2 separate regions of the Homo sapiens genome follow, and region 2 is linked to region 1. The links come from fine-mapping of genetic effects on gene expression. Tissue or cell type: whole blood. Region 1 holds a variant in brackets; the other region holds the start of a gene. All regions are shown on one strand. Distances are from middle to middle.

Region 1 (8,104 bases):
ATCGGGATAATATGATGAATTCTTAGGATTTAATAGTACCATATACATCATGTGCTTGCACCAAGACTGGCACTGTGTCAATTTTTTTTTTTTTTTAAAGCGGTTTGGGAGTCTCTCTGAGCCTACTCTGGCTTGGGAGCCTGCCTGATTTAAAAAATAATAATAAATTAAATAAAAAAGAAAAAAAAAGCTGTTAAAGGCTGGGCATGGTGGCTCAGACCTATAATCCCAGCATATTGGGAGGCCAAGGTGGGAGGATCGCTTGAGGCCTGGAGTTTGAGATCAGCCTGGGCAACATAGTGAGACCTCATCTCTTTTTAATTAAAAAATTTTTTTAAAAAGCTGTTAAAATGTTATCATTATTATTACTATTCTGATTTTTATTATCATTGCGTGTGCCTCTGTTTACTTGTCTGTAAGATAGAAATCATGATTAGACCTAATTCAATGAGTAGTTTGCAGATTTCATGAGACAAAACACGTAAAATGCCTTGAACAGCACCTTAGCCATGGGAAGTGTCAATTAATAGGAGTGATCCCTATACTCCCCTCCTTACCCCCACCCCAGGCCTTCAGATTACCTACTGGGGAGCCACCACCAAACTGGCCCAAACTCCCAGTTCCCTAAGTAGTAGGGGCTATGAAAACGAGGTTTCTGGAGCTGTAGTCAGGGAAGCCATTCCTTTTTCCTTTTTTTTTTCCTCCATCCCTGCCCTCTGCGGAAGTCATTCCTAATTGCAATGCCAGTGAACTTCAAAGTCACTCCTGTCTGGGAAGGAGGCTTTGATCTCTGTGCTTCCTCATTTCTGTCTCAAGCCTGAGGTCCCCTGAACAGGCCGATGTCCAGCTAATGCCCAGTGTCCTGGAGAAAAGGAGTAAATGTTCGTTTAGAATGGAAAAAGTTTTGCCCCTATACAGAGGGCCTGGTATCAGGCTTGGGGTGGGGGGACACACAGGAGGATGGATAAGGTCTGCACCTCTTCCAGGTGCCTAAGTTCCCTGTCTTCTGTTGGTCCAGCTGAGGCCTTATTTCAGCAAGGAGATCTGAGATGTGGCTGAGGAGGGTGGACTGCTCCCAAATCCTCACTGCCTTCTCCTCTGAAAATACCAACACTCCTCTGGGCCCTGTCATGCTTTTGACCTTTGAGAGGGATGAAGAAGCTGATTTGCGATGGGCTTTGAACAGATACAGTTTCCTCATCCTTGGCCCTTCCCACAGATGTGCACCTCACTGGTCCATTCCCACACTGGTTTCACAGGTGGGTGTCTCAGGGGTCTGCAGTGTGTGCCGTGATCTGCAGCTGGGAGAATTTAGAGGAAACCTCAGGGAAAACGTCCTTGGTGAAAGAGCTGAGAGACGCAAAGAAAAGGCTACAGGCCCACGCAATTTTCTTCTCTTCAGATTTTCAATCAGAGAAGGCCTCTTCCCTACCCCCTACTGCCCTAGAGAGCTCCAGAGTTAATGCCTCAGTAGGGCTGGGCTGGAGCTGAGGCTGGGTATCCACCCGTAGCTGTCAGGACCCTTAGGGCATTTTAAAAGGGTAGGGCAACCCCACACCACCCCCAAGGCAACCCTGTGGCCCTGTGGGATGAGGTAGACCCCTGAAGTCCTGAGAGTTTCTACAGAGCCAGGCTCTAGGGCAGGGGTGTCTAATCTTTTGGTTTCCCTGGGCTACATTGGAAGAAGAACTGTGTTGGGCCACACATAAAATACACTAACATGGGCCAGGAGCAGTGGCTCATGCCTGTAATCCCAACATTTTGGGAGGCTGAGGCAGGTGGATCACCTGAGGTCAGATGTTCAAGGCCAGCCTGGCCAACATGGCGAAACCCTGTCTCTACAAAAATACAAAAATTAGCCGACATGGTGGCACGAGCCTGTAATCCCAGCTACTCGGGAGGTTGAGAGACGAGGATCACTTGAACTGGGAGGCGGGGAGGTTGCAGTGAGCCAAGATCATGCCACTGCACTCTAGCCTGAGCAATAGAACAAGACTTCATCCCCACCCCGCCCCAAAAAACAAAAAAACCCACTAACACTGATAGCTGTGAGAAAAAAAAAAATCGCAAAAAAATCATGTTTTAAGAAAATTTATGAATTTGCATCGGGCTGCATTCAAAGCTGTCCTGGGCCACATGTGGTCTTGGGTTGGCAAGTTTGCTCTGGGGGAACAGATGACTTGGTCAGATGGAAGGGTGTAGACATAGGGATGACTTGGGCATGTCCCAAGTACAAGTCCACAGACTCCAGACTTGGCCTGTGCCCTCAGCTCTGCTGGCAATGCCTTTGTTGGCAGCCCAGAGGTCCCATCCTCCACACCAGCCACCACACCCAGGACTGCTCCTCATCCTTTGGACAGAGAGAATTTGGAGGTGCTAGAAGCCAAAAAGCCAGCCTTTTCTTTTGGGGCTGTGTAACCTGATACAGGCATCGTACCCCCCACCCCATCCCCCTAAGCCAGTGCTCATGCAGGCCCTGTTACTGGAAGGAGAAACTCCCAAGTGTGGGAGGCTTTGGGGTGACAGGGTGGGGAGGAGGAAGCCCGAAGAAGACAACTGGGAAGAAAGTCCTAACAGTGTCAGCTCCAGGTAAGGAATGTGCTGCACCCTGCCGACCAGCTCAGTACTCTAGGCTCAGCCCATCCCCATCTGATGGGGCCAGGAAGAGTCACAGAGGACTGTGAGATCTGGGAGAAAGAGAGAAAGCCATTTTTTTTTTCATGATGAAGAAGGTGGTGAGCAGGTCATGGGCAATAGCAACACAGATTAACCTGGGAAAAAGTTCTGAAGAAAATTGGGACATTCAGCTCTGCCAAGACAGTCAGACCAGGGTGAGCTACTGGGGGCTGGCAAATGGTCAGGGGTTACACTGTCCCCAGCCTAGGACCCAGCCAGCCTTGGCCGTGGCCCCAGACAAAGACTTGCCCCACTTGCTGATCTCCCAGAGGCAGAGGCCAGATTCCTTCCAGCCCAGGGAGTCTCTGGACAAGTCATAAAAGTGTTTCCTCCAAGTCTCTGTCTGGTCCTGCTAGAAAAAAATTGTCCATCTGTCAGTCTGCAGGTGAGTGGGGCTGGGTGCCGTGACTTACGCCTGTAATCCCAGCACTTTGGGAGGCTGAGGCAGGAGGATTGCTCAAGACCAGGAGCTCGAGACCACTTAAGCAACATAGACCCCACCTCTACAAATAAAAATGTAAAAATTAACCAGGTGTAATGGTGCGTATTTGTAATCCTAGTTATTAGGGAGGCTAAGGTGAGAGGATGGCTTGAGCCCAGGAGTTTGAGGCTGCAGTGAGCCATAATCGTGCCACTGCAAGCTTGGATGACATAGTGAGACACTATCCCTTTTTTTTTTATGGTGTGGGGGGATGGAGTTTCACTCTTTCGCCCAGGCTGGAGTGAAGTGGCGTGATCTCAGCTCACTGCACCCTCCGCCCGCCAGGTTCAAGCGATTATCCAGCCTCAGCATCCCAAGTAGCTGGGATTATAGGTGCCTGCCATCATGCCTGGCTAATTTTGTACTTTTAGTAGAGACGGGGTTTCGCCACGTTGGCCAGGCTGGTCTGGAAATCCTGACCTCCAGTGATCCACCCGCCTTGGCCTCCCAAAGTGCTGAGATTACAGGCGTGAGCCACCACCCCCTATCTCTTAAGAAAGGCCGACGCTATCTCTTAAGAAAGAAAGCAAAGGAAGAAAGAGAACGAGGTGACCGCACCAGTCACCTTCAGATTGATGGATGAACAGACAAAATTTCCGATGTTCCCTGAGCCAGGGCTAAGGCATCAGCCCAGAATCCTCTTCTCGGATGACTCAGGAGCGCCCCCTTCTGTCTGGTTTGGCTGAAACCAGTGTGGGGGGCGGGGAGAAAGAATGATTAAAGTAGATTCTAATCACAATGCCCAAAGACAGCCGCTGCAGGAGCAGGCCCTACCAGAAGGGTCCTCACTTTAGGCTGCCCCCCGATACTGCCACAGCCTGAATCAGAGCTGGACTTCCTCAAGGGGGATCAGGGACCAAGGAGGAGAATGTCTAAAGCGCAGTCGACCTGAGAGGACGCCTAGGCTGTCATACCTGGGCCTGGCAGCCTGGCCTCTGGGCACATGCCTAGAGCTCTGGAGGCCATCCAGCCTGCAGATGTCCCCAGCTTCATGAGAAAAGTCATGGTCTGTGTAGAAAGACCAGGCTCTTCCTCTGAGCCTAAGAAAGAAAGGGCTGAGACAGTCAATTATCTCAGGGCTATGAGTGTGTTGTCGGGGGATCAGCCAG[C/T]CATGGGAAGCACAAGAGGGGAGATGCTGCTTCTCCCCAGCAACTGCCCCCAGAGCCAATGAGACATGTTTCCCAAAGGACCTCCAGCTTCCTGTGTACAGGTGCAGAAGAGACCCGCAGACTCCTCTGGTGTTTAGTTCTAACATTCCATAACCTACAGGATTCTCTCTCCTGGACCATCTGCAGCTGCCCTTTCCCAGTTTATTCGTTAGTCTGATTTTTTTAAATTAATTAATTTATTTATTTGCCATATAGAGTCCACATTGGATCTTCAGTCTGATTTAAATCCATCTTGCTGCATCTGAATGACAGCTAGAAGAGAGGGAGGGGGAAAGCAAAGGGGATGCTGAGAAACTGAGGAGGAGAAAGACAAAACAAGGAGAAGGAGTGGAGAGAGAACTGAAGGAGTGGAGAGAGGAAGACCCGAGCAAGTACCTGAGAGGAGCCATCTGCCCGGTGGAGAACAGCTTCTGCATTGTCCCTAGTCACTCTCCCTGTCAACACTTCATAGCTGCAAGTCCATGCTCGCACTACATGTAGGCGTGGACACACACACATACACACACACATCACATACTTAGGCTGTGGAGAAGGCCTGGCTGTGTGTGGGGCTTGAGGGGCAGTCTGCCCCCTCCTGAATACTTATCTTCTCCTCCTCACACCTCCCCACCCCTCAGCCTTCCAGCACTAGTTCTTTGTGCTTTCAAAGCAGCTCCCTCCCAGAATGCTACCTCCAGGAAGTGCTGAGCTGAGAGAATGGGGGAATGGAAGGAAGGGGAGCTAGTCCTCTTCCCCCGACAGCACTGCTCCATCAAACAGCACCCCCTCCTCCCCTCACCTCCACCTCTTTCATCACTGCCACTGACAGCTGCAAAATCAGCCCTCCTCATCCTGAGCAGTGGACTGCGGGGATGTGTCCGTCTATTTCCTATCCACTTCCTGGGGCAGAAGACAGCTGGGGACGGAGGTAGAGAAGCAGCATCCCCATCCGTGCCAATACCGTCTCCCTCCCTTCCCCCATAAGTAAAGAAAGTCCTCCAGCCAGGCCCTAGAAGTAGCGTGCAGTCACCCCAGCTTTCTAAAATCCCTGTCCACAATGCCCCCGGCCCTGTCCTCCCAAGGTAGACTCTATTTCTCAGACCTTGGAAAGTCGCTCTAGGATATCTCACCCTGAAAGACAGATCCACTCTTGGAATGCTGGGAGACAGTGATGGATTCGCCCACACACTAGCAACCTACTTCCATTAACTTCTATGTCCAAATAATTTCTTTAAATCACAAGGATGAAGCTGGGGAGGGGAAGGCAAGCCTGTGACATCAATCTCCAGCAGGGATTCCTCCTTCAAACCTGGCCAGGGCAAAGCAGGAAAAATACCCAGCACATTCTTCTGGGACAAAACTATGGAAATGAGCCCCCACCCCACCCCGCCACCCACAGTGCCTCTTCTCACCTAAGTTCTTGGCCACCCTCTCCCTTGGTTCTGTGGAAAGACAGCACAGATAGAGGCTTTTCCACCCCTTCCTGGAGGTTTCAGGGCTCCGGCTGCTCCTTGGCAAGGTGCGGGCTGCCTCCTGGGGCATCCCAACCCCCCTAGCAGCCAAGAGAGCATCTCCTGCATGACCAGTGCCCAGGGTGACAGAAAGGGCAGGGCATGAGAAGGATAACTAAAAGCTAAGAGCTGTACCTCAGCTACCAATTTACCATTCCTTCTCAAATTACCCCAATTACTGCCCTCATTTTACAAAGGAGGAAGTGGAGACTTAGAGGGTCTAACTTGTACAAAGCTAGCTGCTAGAAAGGGACAGATCCGAGTCAAGCACAGGTCTTCCATCTCCAAAGTCTGCCTTTAGGGAGATCATGTCCTGGTAGGGAGGGGGGAGCAGGAAGCAGGTGACATTTCAATTGCTTAGTGTTCCCATCTACCCTTGGCTCTGGAACACAGGTTCATCAGCTCAGACCTACTGTTCTAGCCCCAGCCGGGCTTACCCTGCCTGCTGCTAATCCAGCCTCCAGCTGGGAGGTTTGGACATCTTGGGGATGGGCCAGGTGGAGCCTGGAAGGCAGAGGGGACAGAGAAGGGAAGAGCTGGCATTTTGACAGGGCCCAGGAGCAGGCAAGGGGAAGAGAGCTGGGCAGATGGGCCTGAACCGGCCATGTGGGGAGGCTGGGCCTTGAGAAAAGTGTAGGCATAATGGGGCCTGGCTGAAACACGGCTTCACCCAGTTGGCACTTCTTGCTTCCTTCATTGTCCCTATTGCTTTGAATTGTCTGCTTTAGATGTGATTCTTTTCAAATGGGCACCTTCCACCTACAAAGGGACTGGCATGGGGAGAGATTACTGATGTCATAGTCTTCTTCCAGTAGCAACAGCAGGCTAGGGAACTGGCAGCCCAGACCACAACAGGAGCAGTTTGTGATGTTCTGTTGCAGCAGATTGGAGAGGGTTTCCCATGGCTCAGACCTGAGGCTGAGGAACCAGAATAGAAAAGGCAGGAGAGAGGAGGCCCTGAGCTCTTGGACAACCATCGGGCTTGTTGGTGGCCTGGAATACAGGTGTCCATATAGGCTTTCCCCTCCGAGTAGGAGAAAAGTCAGCACTGTCCAGCCCTGTGGCTCTGATGACAGTGGTGGCTTAGTGTGGTGGCTTTGTGTGGTGTCCCCCTTAGAGGTGCTCTACCTCTTCCAGGCTCTGAAGTTCCCATAAACGAGGGGAGAATGAACAAGAACCAGTCACTGGCACTTGATGGTTTCTCTTATGTTGTTTCTCTTATGTTGTTTGCAACCTCCGCCTCCTGGGCTCAAGTGAGCCTCATGCTTCAGCTTCCCAAGTAGCTGGGACCACAGGTGTGCACCACCACACCTGGCTAATTTTTTTGTGTTTTTTGTAGAGATGGGTTTTTGCCATGTTGCCCAGGCTGATCTCAAACTCCTGAGCACAAGCAATCTGCCCACCTCGGCCTCCCAAAGTGCTGGGATCAAGAGTATGAGGCACTGCACCCAATCTGTTTGTTTTTTCTTTTTTTTGAAATGGAGTCTCGCTCTGCTGCCCAGCCTGGAGTGCAGTGGTGTAATCTCAGCTCACTGCAACCTCCACCTTCTAGGTTCAAGCAATTCTCCTGCCTTAGCCTCCTGAATAGCTGGGATTGTAGGCACGCACACCCACGCCTGGCTAATTTTTGTATTTTTAGTAGAGACGGGGTTTCAGCACATTAGCCAGGCTGGTCTGAAACTCCTGGGCTCAAGTGATCGGCCTTTCTTGGCCTCCCAAAGTGTTAGGGTTACAGGCATGAGCCACTGCACCCAGCCTGTTTGTTTTTTCTATAGTCCTTTTTAAAGCATGACTCCATGTCCTTCTGAAGCAGAAACTCACCTCCTGTCTCAAGTGTTTCATTGAGTGGGGGTGGAGTGGGATATCTTTCCTTTCCAGAATCTGGGAGAGCTGCAGTGGTTTGAGTTGTCTAGTGGAACTGCCTTAGTCAGTTCAGGCTTCTATAACAAAATACTGTAAATGGAGTGGCTTATAAACAACAGATTTTTTTTTCTTTTTCTTTTTCTTTTTTTTTTTTTTTGAGAGAGAGTCTCACTCTGTGGCCCAAGCTGGAGTGCAGTGGCGCCATCTTGGCTCACTGCAACCTCTGCCTTCCAGGTTCAAGCAATTCTCTTGCCTCAGCCTCCCAAGTAGCTGGGATTACAGGTGTGCACCACCATGCCCAGCTAATTTTTGTATTTTTAATAGAGACAGGGTTTCACCATGTTGGCCATGCTGGTCTTGAACTCCTAGCCTCAAGTGATCTGCCTGCCTTGGCCTCCCAAAGTGTTGGGATTACAGGCGTGAGC
Region 2 (8,104 bases), 110 kb before region 1:
ATAAAAATAAATAAAATAAATAAAATTAAAATACCAGATTAGCCAGGTGTGGTGGCACATGCCTGTAATCCCAGCTACTTGGGAGGCTGAGGCAGAAGAATCACTTGAACCCAGGAGACAGAGGTTGCAGTGAGCCGACATCACGCCATTGCACTCCAGCCTGGGCAACAAGAGCAAAACTCCATCTCAAAAAAAAAAGAAATAGGAGAAAAAAAGAATATATTACACATAAGCTGAGGACTGCATGGAGAGGATTTCATCAGTGATTAGATCTGGGTGGCAAGGAAGAAGAATGGGCTGTAGATGGTTCTCAGTTTGCCCAAATTTGTTATTGGAGGCCCTCCATAATCTGACTGTTGCCTCATCTGTTATCATTCCATCCACAAGCTAGACTCCAGGCAGAAAAGACTTTTTCCTCCTTCACTCAACAAGCATCTAATTTGCCCTCCATGCCAGGTACTAAGCACCAAGACAAGAACTAAGACTCTCAGTTCCTGCCTTCAAGGAGCTTACAAGGCTCCCTTCCTAGCAGTAAAGGCAAACAGGTACATCAATAATAACGTACAGCATAATGTAATGCACCACCCAGTGCTAAAAAATTTGCTACCAGAAACGAAAGTGCTGAGTCTTAAGATATGACTAAAAGCTCATCATGAAAGGTTATGTTGGGAGAGTAGAAGGGAATCACTGAGGAAGCAACTTTACCCTAGGCCCCCAACATCCAGTCCATTTTCTTTTTTTCTGAGTCAGGGTCTCACTGTGTTGCCCAGGCTGGAGTGCAGGGGCATGATCATAGTTCACAGCAGCCTTGAACTGTTTTTAAATACTGTATGCCTCAGCGGCATTACATATATTCACGATCCATTTCCAGAACTTTTTTCATCTTCCCAAACCGAACTCTGTACCCATAACAATAGCTCCCTATTCCCCTTCACCTGGCCCCTAACAACCACCATTCTGTTTTCTTTCTTTCTCCTTCCTTCCTCCCTCCCTTCCTCCCTTTTTTTCTTTTGTTTGAGACAGGGTCTCACTCTGTCACCCAGGCTGCAGTGTGACATGATCAGAGCTCACTGCAACCTCCACCTCCCAAGCTCAAGCAATGAATCCTACCACCTCAGCCTCCTGAGTAGCTGGGACTACAGAGCGTGTCACCATGCCTGGTTGATTTTTTTTTTTTTAGAGGCGGGGTCTCATAAAGTTGCTCAGGCTGGTCTTGAACTCCTAGCTTCAAGTGATCCTCCCAACTCAGCCTCCCAAAAAAACAGGATTATAGGCATGAGCCTCCCTGTCCAGCCCCAATCCATATTTAAGTCCTGTCTCATTTCTCCAAAATACAGCTCCCTTCATCCCTACCACCTCGTACTCCACCATCTTCCTAGCTCAACTCTCTGCTTCCACATGCACACAAACACAAGCCTTCTCCAAGCACTAGCAGGAGTCTTAAAAAGGAAATCAAATCATGAAACTCCCTACAATGGCTTCTTACACCTCTAGAATAAAACCCCAACATGGCCTCTGCCTTCTCTGGCAATCTCATGTGAGGTCTTCTCCCCACTGAAAAAGTACCCAAGCTATACAAGTCTTCTCTCAAGTCTCTAAACACACGGAGTCTTTCCTGTCTCAGGACCTCTACAAATGCAGAGGGCCCTGTTCCTTCTCTCCATATTCTCACCAGCACACAACACTACCCCCAACAATCAGGGCTGTCTGTTATGCCCCACAGTGAGTTACGTTCTCAAAGAAATCCGAAAGTGCGGTGGCTCACACCTGTAATCCCAGCACTTTAGGAGGCTGAGGCGAGTGGATCACCTGAGGTCAGGAGTTAAAGACCAGACTCACCAATATGATGAAACCCCATCTCTGCTAAAAATTAAAAAATCAGGCTGGGCACGGTGGCTGAAGCCTGCAATCCCAGCACTTTGGGAGGCCGAGGTGGATCACGAGGTCAGGAGTTTGAGACCAGCCTGGCCAACATGGTGAAACCCTCTCTATCAAAAATACAAAAAAATTAGGCAGGCATGTTGGCACACACCTGTAATCCCAGCTCCTTGAGGTTGAGGCAGGAGAGTTGCTTGAACCCAGGAGGCACGGGTTGCAGTGAGCCGCAATTATGCCACTGCACTCCAGCCTGGGAGACACAGCAAGACTATCTCAAAATAAATAAATAAATAAATAAATAAATAAGCCGGGCGTGGTAGCTTGCACTTAGTAATCCCAGCTACTCCGGAGGCTGAGACAGGAGAATCGCTTGAATCCCCAGGAGGTGGAGTTTGCAGTGAACTGAGATCACCTCACTGAACCCCAGCCTGGGCAACACAGGGAGACTCCATCAAAAAAAAAAAAAAAAAAAAAAAAAAAAAAAAAAAGAAGGAAATCCCAAAACCCGGGCAGGGCAGTTACCCTGGATCTCCACATCTGGTTCATGTCTCCAGAAGAGACAGGAGTCCCACTTTGGACACCTTGAGTTTGAGAAGCCTGGGACACCCAAAAAGCTTCCCAATGCACAGGTGACCATGTGGGTCAGGAGACACACCTGCACTCAAAGGCTTGGACTTTTAGCACATAAGGCTGATGACAGAAGAGACTGCACAGAGCAGTGATTCTCATCTTGGAGGAGGGTACCTCTCATCTCTAAGTCACTATATGAAATGAGATATCACTGATGGGAGTGAAGGTGATGCCACATCAGTGGTGTGGAGGACAAAGATACTTTGGAAAGAACCCTGGGTACGAGAGGAAAGAGTGAGGGCGAGGAAAAGAAAGAAACTGAGATGAGTCAAAAGGAAAAGAAAACCAGGAGAGTGATATCACAATTCCCCAAACTCCTATGCCCTTTTATGCTTCTCATGACTTTCTCCCTTCACTTAAAAAAAACTCGACTCATGTTTCATCCAGATCAAATGCCACCACCTCCTGAAAGCCTTTCTGGACTTACCCAAGTAAAACTTATTAGCCCCCTCTCCGTGCCTCTACAAGTTTCTTTTGTTGTTACTATTAGGTAAGATTTGACTCAGACAATAGTTTCATTAGTACTGTTAAGGCACTTACTGCAGTCCGCTCTGTACTACACCTGGGGTGTGTGTCTCCCCTATTACACTGTGAGCTCTTAGGTGGATTAAAAAATTATTCTTTCGCTGAATAAATATCCAGATGGGGTCAGGCACCCTGGCTCAGGCCTGTAATCACAACACTTTGGGAGGCTGAGGCAGGAGGACCACTTGAGCCCAGGAGTTCGAGACCAGCTTGGGCAAGACAGCGAGACACCATCTCTACCAAAAATACAAAAATTAGACGGATGTGGTGGCGCGTGCCTGTAGTCCCAACTACTTCGGAAGCCGAGGTGGGGGGATCACTTGAGCCCAGGAGACAGAAGCCGCAGTGAGTCATGATCGTGTCACTGCGCTCCAGCCCGGGCGACGGAGACCCCGTCTTTAAAAAAAATGTTTGTTCAAAAGTCCAGATTGGTAAATAATTAGGCAGAAACTATAGGTAACTCCTACACTCATTCTTCATTCTTCCTGTAAAACAAAATAACACATCCTAATTAATTCGATTTATAAATTCCGTTCCTTAAAGTAACACCCACCTGTCCAGTATTTAAAAATCACTGCTGACTAAACACAAATATTCGCTCCACAAAATGCCTATCCTGTCCCAACAATGATGTAAGCATTTCCTTCATCATAAATATAAAATGCCCCGAATTTAGTCGTAGACTTGACATATCTCGCTCTTTTCCAAATAATTGTAAATTCTGTACAAAACACACGCACCAAAAAAATGTCACCAAGATGCAAGAGGACGTAAGAGGGAGTCAACCTTGGAACTGGGCCAACCGCCGCCTGCATTACTGGGAAGCCACTGCTGCCAAGCAAAGGTCAGGCATTCATTCAGGCAACATTTTTTCCAACAAGTGCTTCACACTCGCACGCACACACACGCTCCTTTAAAAGTCAACAACAATTAAAAAAAAAAAAAAACCTCTCTAATGCCACTCCTGAAAACTAGGGCTGAAAGCTAAGTGCGTCCAACCGACAAGAAACCCAGGAAAGCTGAGTAATCCCCGAGTCCAAGTGGACGGTCACGCCAAAAGTCCACACGGGTGTGGCCCACCTACGGCGAAGCTGTATGGGAGAAGCCCGGGCTCCAGCCTCCCGGTTCGCCGAGCCCGCGTCCCCGCCGCCCCATCGGGAAGTCTCAGCGGCCGGGAAGGGGGAGGGGGCAGGAACGCCTCGGAGCCGGACGACAATCACTTCCCGGGAAAGCGGCTCCCAGACAAGCCGCCCCAGGGAAGGAAGGCGGCCGAGGGGCCCGGCGCGGGGCTGCCGCGCGCGCCGAGGCCGCGGTAACAAAGTTTGGAAACCGCGAGAAAACTTTTCCAAGAGGAAACGCGGCGGCGGCGCTGGGCCTATAGTTTCTCCTCCCCAGCCCAGGCGGCCCCCCGACTTCCCGAGCGCTGGGAAGCGCCGGCCGTGCCCGCCCGGGCCCCATACTCGGGCCCTGCGGGGGAAGGGACCGCCGGCCCGACGCGGGTCCCACGCCCGCCCGGGGCCCAATTCCCGGCGACGTCGCCAAAGAAACCGCGCCCCGCCCGCTCGCCCGCCCGCGGCTCGCGGGGCCCAGCTTGGGACGGCCCGGCCCAAGGACCCTCTCGGCCTGGCCCGAGAGACCGCGCCCGCGAGGAGGGAGGTACGAAGTTACCTGCGGCTAGCTGGGCGAGCGCTAAATTCCAGAGGCCCGAAGCAGACGGGCGCTGCTTTGTCTCCCTCCAGTCCGGCTAGGAGGAGGAAATGGGCCGCCCCACGCCCCCGCCCCCGGCCCGCCCCCCGCCCGCGGCCCCCGCCCCTGTCCCGGCCCCGCCCGCCCTTCCTGGCACCTCCCTCCGACTCGCTCTTCCCGGCGCCTCCCGCCGCCGCCCCGCCCGCTCCTCCCGGCCGTTCCGGCCTCCGCTTTTGGGGAAAGGGAAGGCCCCCACCGCGAAGAGAGTCTGGCAACGCCGGACCGGGACCCCCGAGGGACCTCTTCCTCCCCGCCGCCCACCTCAGAATTCCTTCCTCCCCGGCCCCTAGTGGGAGCTTAGGCCGGGAGTGACCCCTGAGAGGGAGGAGGAGCGGTGACTCCTGGAACAGCCCGCGGGCGGAGAGGGCTGCGCGAGGGCAGGTGAGTCACCGCTCCGCGCACAGGTGAGGCTCAGGGGCGGCCTCGCGCGGGCCCCCACCCCGGCGGAATCCCAGAGACGCGACCAGGGGTACTGGGCACGCTCCCCTCAAGAGTGTCACAGGTGTCCCGGAGTCACAGTCTTCTGGAAAAGTGATCTAGGCCAACTACCTGGCTTTACAGAAGGAGAAGCGGAGGCTAAGGAAAGGCCCCACAGCTTCGGGACACAGTGGAACTAGAATCTGACTCTCAGGACCTTTCATAATGTGAGGTGGAAGCGCCCCTAGAATTCACCTAACCCGTCCCCTCACTCCACAGATGGAAACACCCGAAGCCCTCTTGATCAAGGACTTTTTTTTTTTTTTAAGACGGGGTCTCCCTCTGTCGCCCAGGCTGGGGTGGAGTGTCGCGATCACGGCCCACTGCAGCCTCAAATCCCTGGACAACCGACCCTCCCACCTCAGCCTCCGGAGTAGCTGGAACTACAGACACAGAGTCTCACTATGTTGCCAGGCTGGTCTCAAACTCATGGGCTCAAGAAATCCTCCTCAGCCTCCCAAAGTGCTGGGATTACAGGCTAGAGCCACCTTGCGGGGAGGACATTTACAAACACAAAAGAGGCACCGCAGCAGCTGTCCCTTTTTGGGCTTGTTCCCGCCCCGCCCCCAGCACGTCCCCCCTCCCAGCTTGTCCCCCTCCTCCAACAAATTTGAGGGACCTGACTTCTATCTCTATTCCTCTGGTCATTTGGGGCATTTTATTCTTACCCTTTCTTATCTTCATAGTGAATACTCCAAAAACAAAAGAAAACAAAATTACAAAGCAAACAAACAACACAAAAAAACAAAAACTACTACATGCTCACTATCATCCTGGTATAGAAAACCCTAATGATGTTTCCCCTGCTCACGGGATGATGAATAAGATAGATTTCAGTATTGGCCTATAAACCTGAATAATGCAAGACGACGATGTCCACTGCTGGCCTTGTGCTGAATAGAGAGCAGGGTGCTAGGGAGACCTGCCCTTACCGTGTTTACCCTCTACTCCTCACATCTCCCTCTCCCCCAAGGGAATATAAACTTCTGGAAAGCAGGAGCTGTATCTCCTGCAGCACCCAGCACATTGCCCATCCCCTAGGGAGTGCCTAGTGAACATCTGTGGGTGAATGTGCCCACTGTAATTCAAAGTACTGTGGGCCTGTGCTAGTTAACAGATGCTGACAAAGGGCAATAGGACCATGAAGTGGGGAGAGAACAACCTTTAAGAAAAAGAGGATGGGCACAGTGGCTCACACAAGTAATCCCAGCACTTTGGGAGGCCAAGATGGGTGGATCACATGAGCTCAGGAGACCAGCCTGGGCAAAATGATAGAACCCTTGTCTACAAAAAAATACAAAAACATAGCTGGGTGTAGTGGCACCTACCTGTAGTCCCAGCTACTTGGGAGGCTGAGGTGGGAGGATCGCTTGAGCCTGGGAGTTCAAGGCTGCAGTGAACCATGACTGCACCACTGCACTCCAGCCTGGGCAACACAGTGAGACTCTGTCTCAAAAAGAAAAAGAAAAAGGCAAACCCTGACAAGGTCATTCTTGTCCAACTACCCCTGTCCTGTTTCTGGCTGCAGGGTCTTTGCTCCTGTAGTCTCCTCTGCCTAGAGTGGCTTTGGCGTCCCTCTACTTCACCTGGCTAACTCAGAACATAATTCATATATTTTGGATATTTGTCCCTGCCCAAATCTCACATTGAAATGTAATCCCCAGTGTTGGAGGTGGGGCTGGTGGGAGGCATTTGGGTAATAGAGGAGGATCCCTCATGGCTTGGTGCTGTCCTCCAGGTACTAAGGGAATTCTCATGAAATGTAGTCGTTTTAAAGTGTAGCACCGGCCAGGCACAGTGGCTCACACCTGTAATCCCAACACTTTTGAGAAGCCAAGGTGGGCGGATAGCTTGAGCCCAGGAGTTCGAGACCAGCCTGGGCAACATGGTAAAAACCCATCTCTACAAAAAAATACAAAAAAATTAGCCAAGCAGGCTGGGCACCGTGGCTCACGCCTATAGTCCCAGCACTTCAGGAGGCCAAAGCGGGCAGATCATCTGAGGTCAGGAGTTCAAGACCAGCCTGGGGCAACATGGTGAAACCCCATCTCTACTAAAAGTACAAAATTAGCAGGGCATGGTGGCATGTGCCTGTAATCCCAGCTACTCGGGACGCTGAGGCAGGAGAATCATTTGAACCTGGGAGGCAGAGGTGGAGCCGAGATCACGCCATTACACTCCAACCTTGGCAACAAAAGCAAAAGTCTGTCTCAAAAAAAAAAAAAAAGCCAGGCATGGTGGTGTGTGCCTGTAGTCCCAGCTACCTGGGGGGCTCAGGTGGGAAGATCACCTGAGCCTGGGGAGATTGAGGCTGCAGTGAGCCATGATTGTGCCACTACACTCCAGCCTGGGCAACGGAGTGAGACCCTGTCTCAAAAACAAAAAGATGTGGCACCTCAGCCCCCTCCTGCTCCTGCTTTCAGCATGTAATGTGCCTGCTCCAGCTTCACCTTCCACCATGAGTAAAAGTTCCCTGAGGCCTCTCCAGAAAGTAGAGCAGATGCCCAGGCCTTGCTTATACAGCCTGCAGAACCATGAGCCAATTAAACGTTTTTTCTTTTTTCTTTTCTTTTTTTTTTTTTTTTGTGTGTGTGTGTCTGTGTGTGACGGAGTTTCACTTTTGTCACCCAGACTGCAACCTCTACCTCCTGGATTCAAACGATTCTCCTGCCTCAGCTTACCAAGTAGCTGGGATTACAGGTGCACACCACCACGCCCGGCTAATTTTTGTATTTTCAGTAGAGACGGAGTTTTACCGTGTTGGCCAGGCTGGTCTCGAACTCTTGACCTCAGGTGATCCGCCTGCCTCAGCCTCCCAAAGTGCTGGGATACAGGCATAAGCCACCGC

What was found. PIP is the estimated chance that this variant, and not a neighbour inherited with it, causes the effect.
Region 2: it holds the start of CTNNA1, and the variant in region 1 is fine-mapped to the expression of CTNNA1 in whole blood (TOPMed, PIP above 0.99).

What each region holds. Positions count from the first base shown.
Region 1 is chr5:138,637,732-138,645,835 of GRCh38, reverse strand. No RefSeq gene overlaps it. Among named protein-coding and RNA genes, the nearest start is that of HSPA9, 66 kb to the right of the region's middle. RefSeq lists enhancers at 3,742-3,821, 3,832-3,911, 3,481-4,034, 4,035-4,588. The variant C/T (reference allele first, on the strand shown) is at 4,267.
Region 2 is chr5:138,750,108-138,758,211 of GRCh38, reverse strand. CTNNA1 (catenin alpha 1) reads right to left here and starts at 4,787. Exons shown (of 18, transcript NM_001903.5): 1 at 4,702-4,787. CTNNA1-AS1 (CTNNA1 antisense RNA 1) reads left to right here and starts at 4,288. Exons shown (of 2, transcript NR_134244.1): 1 at 4,288-4,689. RefSeq lists enhancers at 3,620-4,186, 4,187-4,754 and a silencer at 4,458-4,897.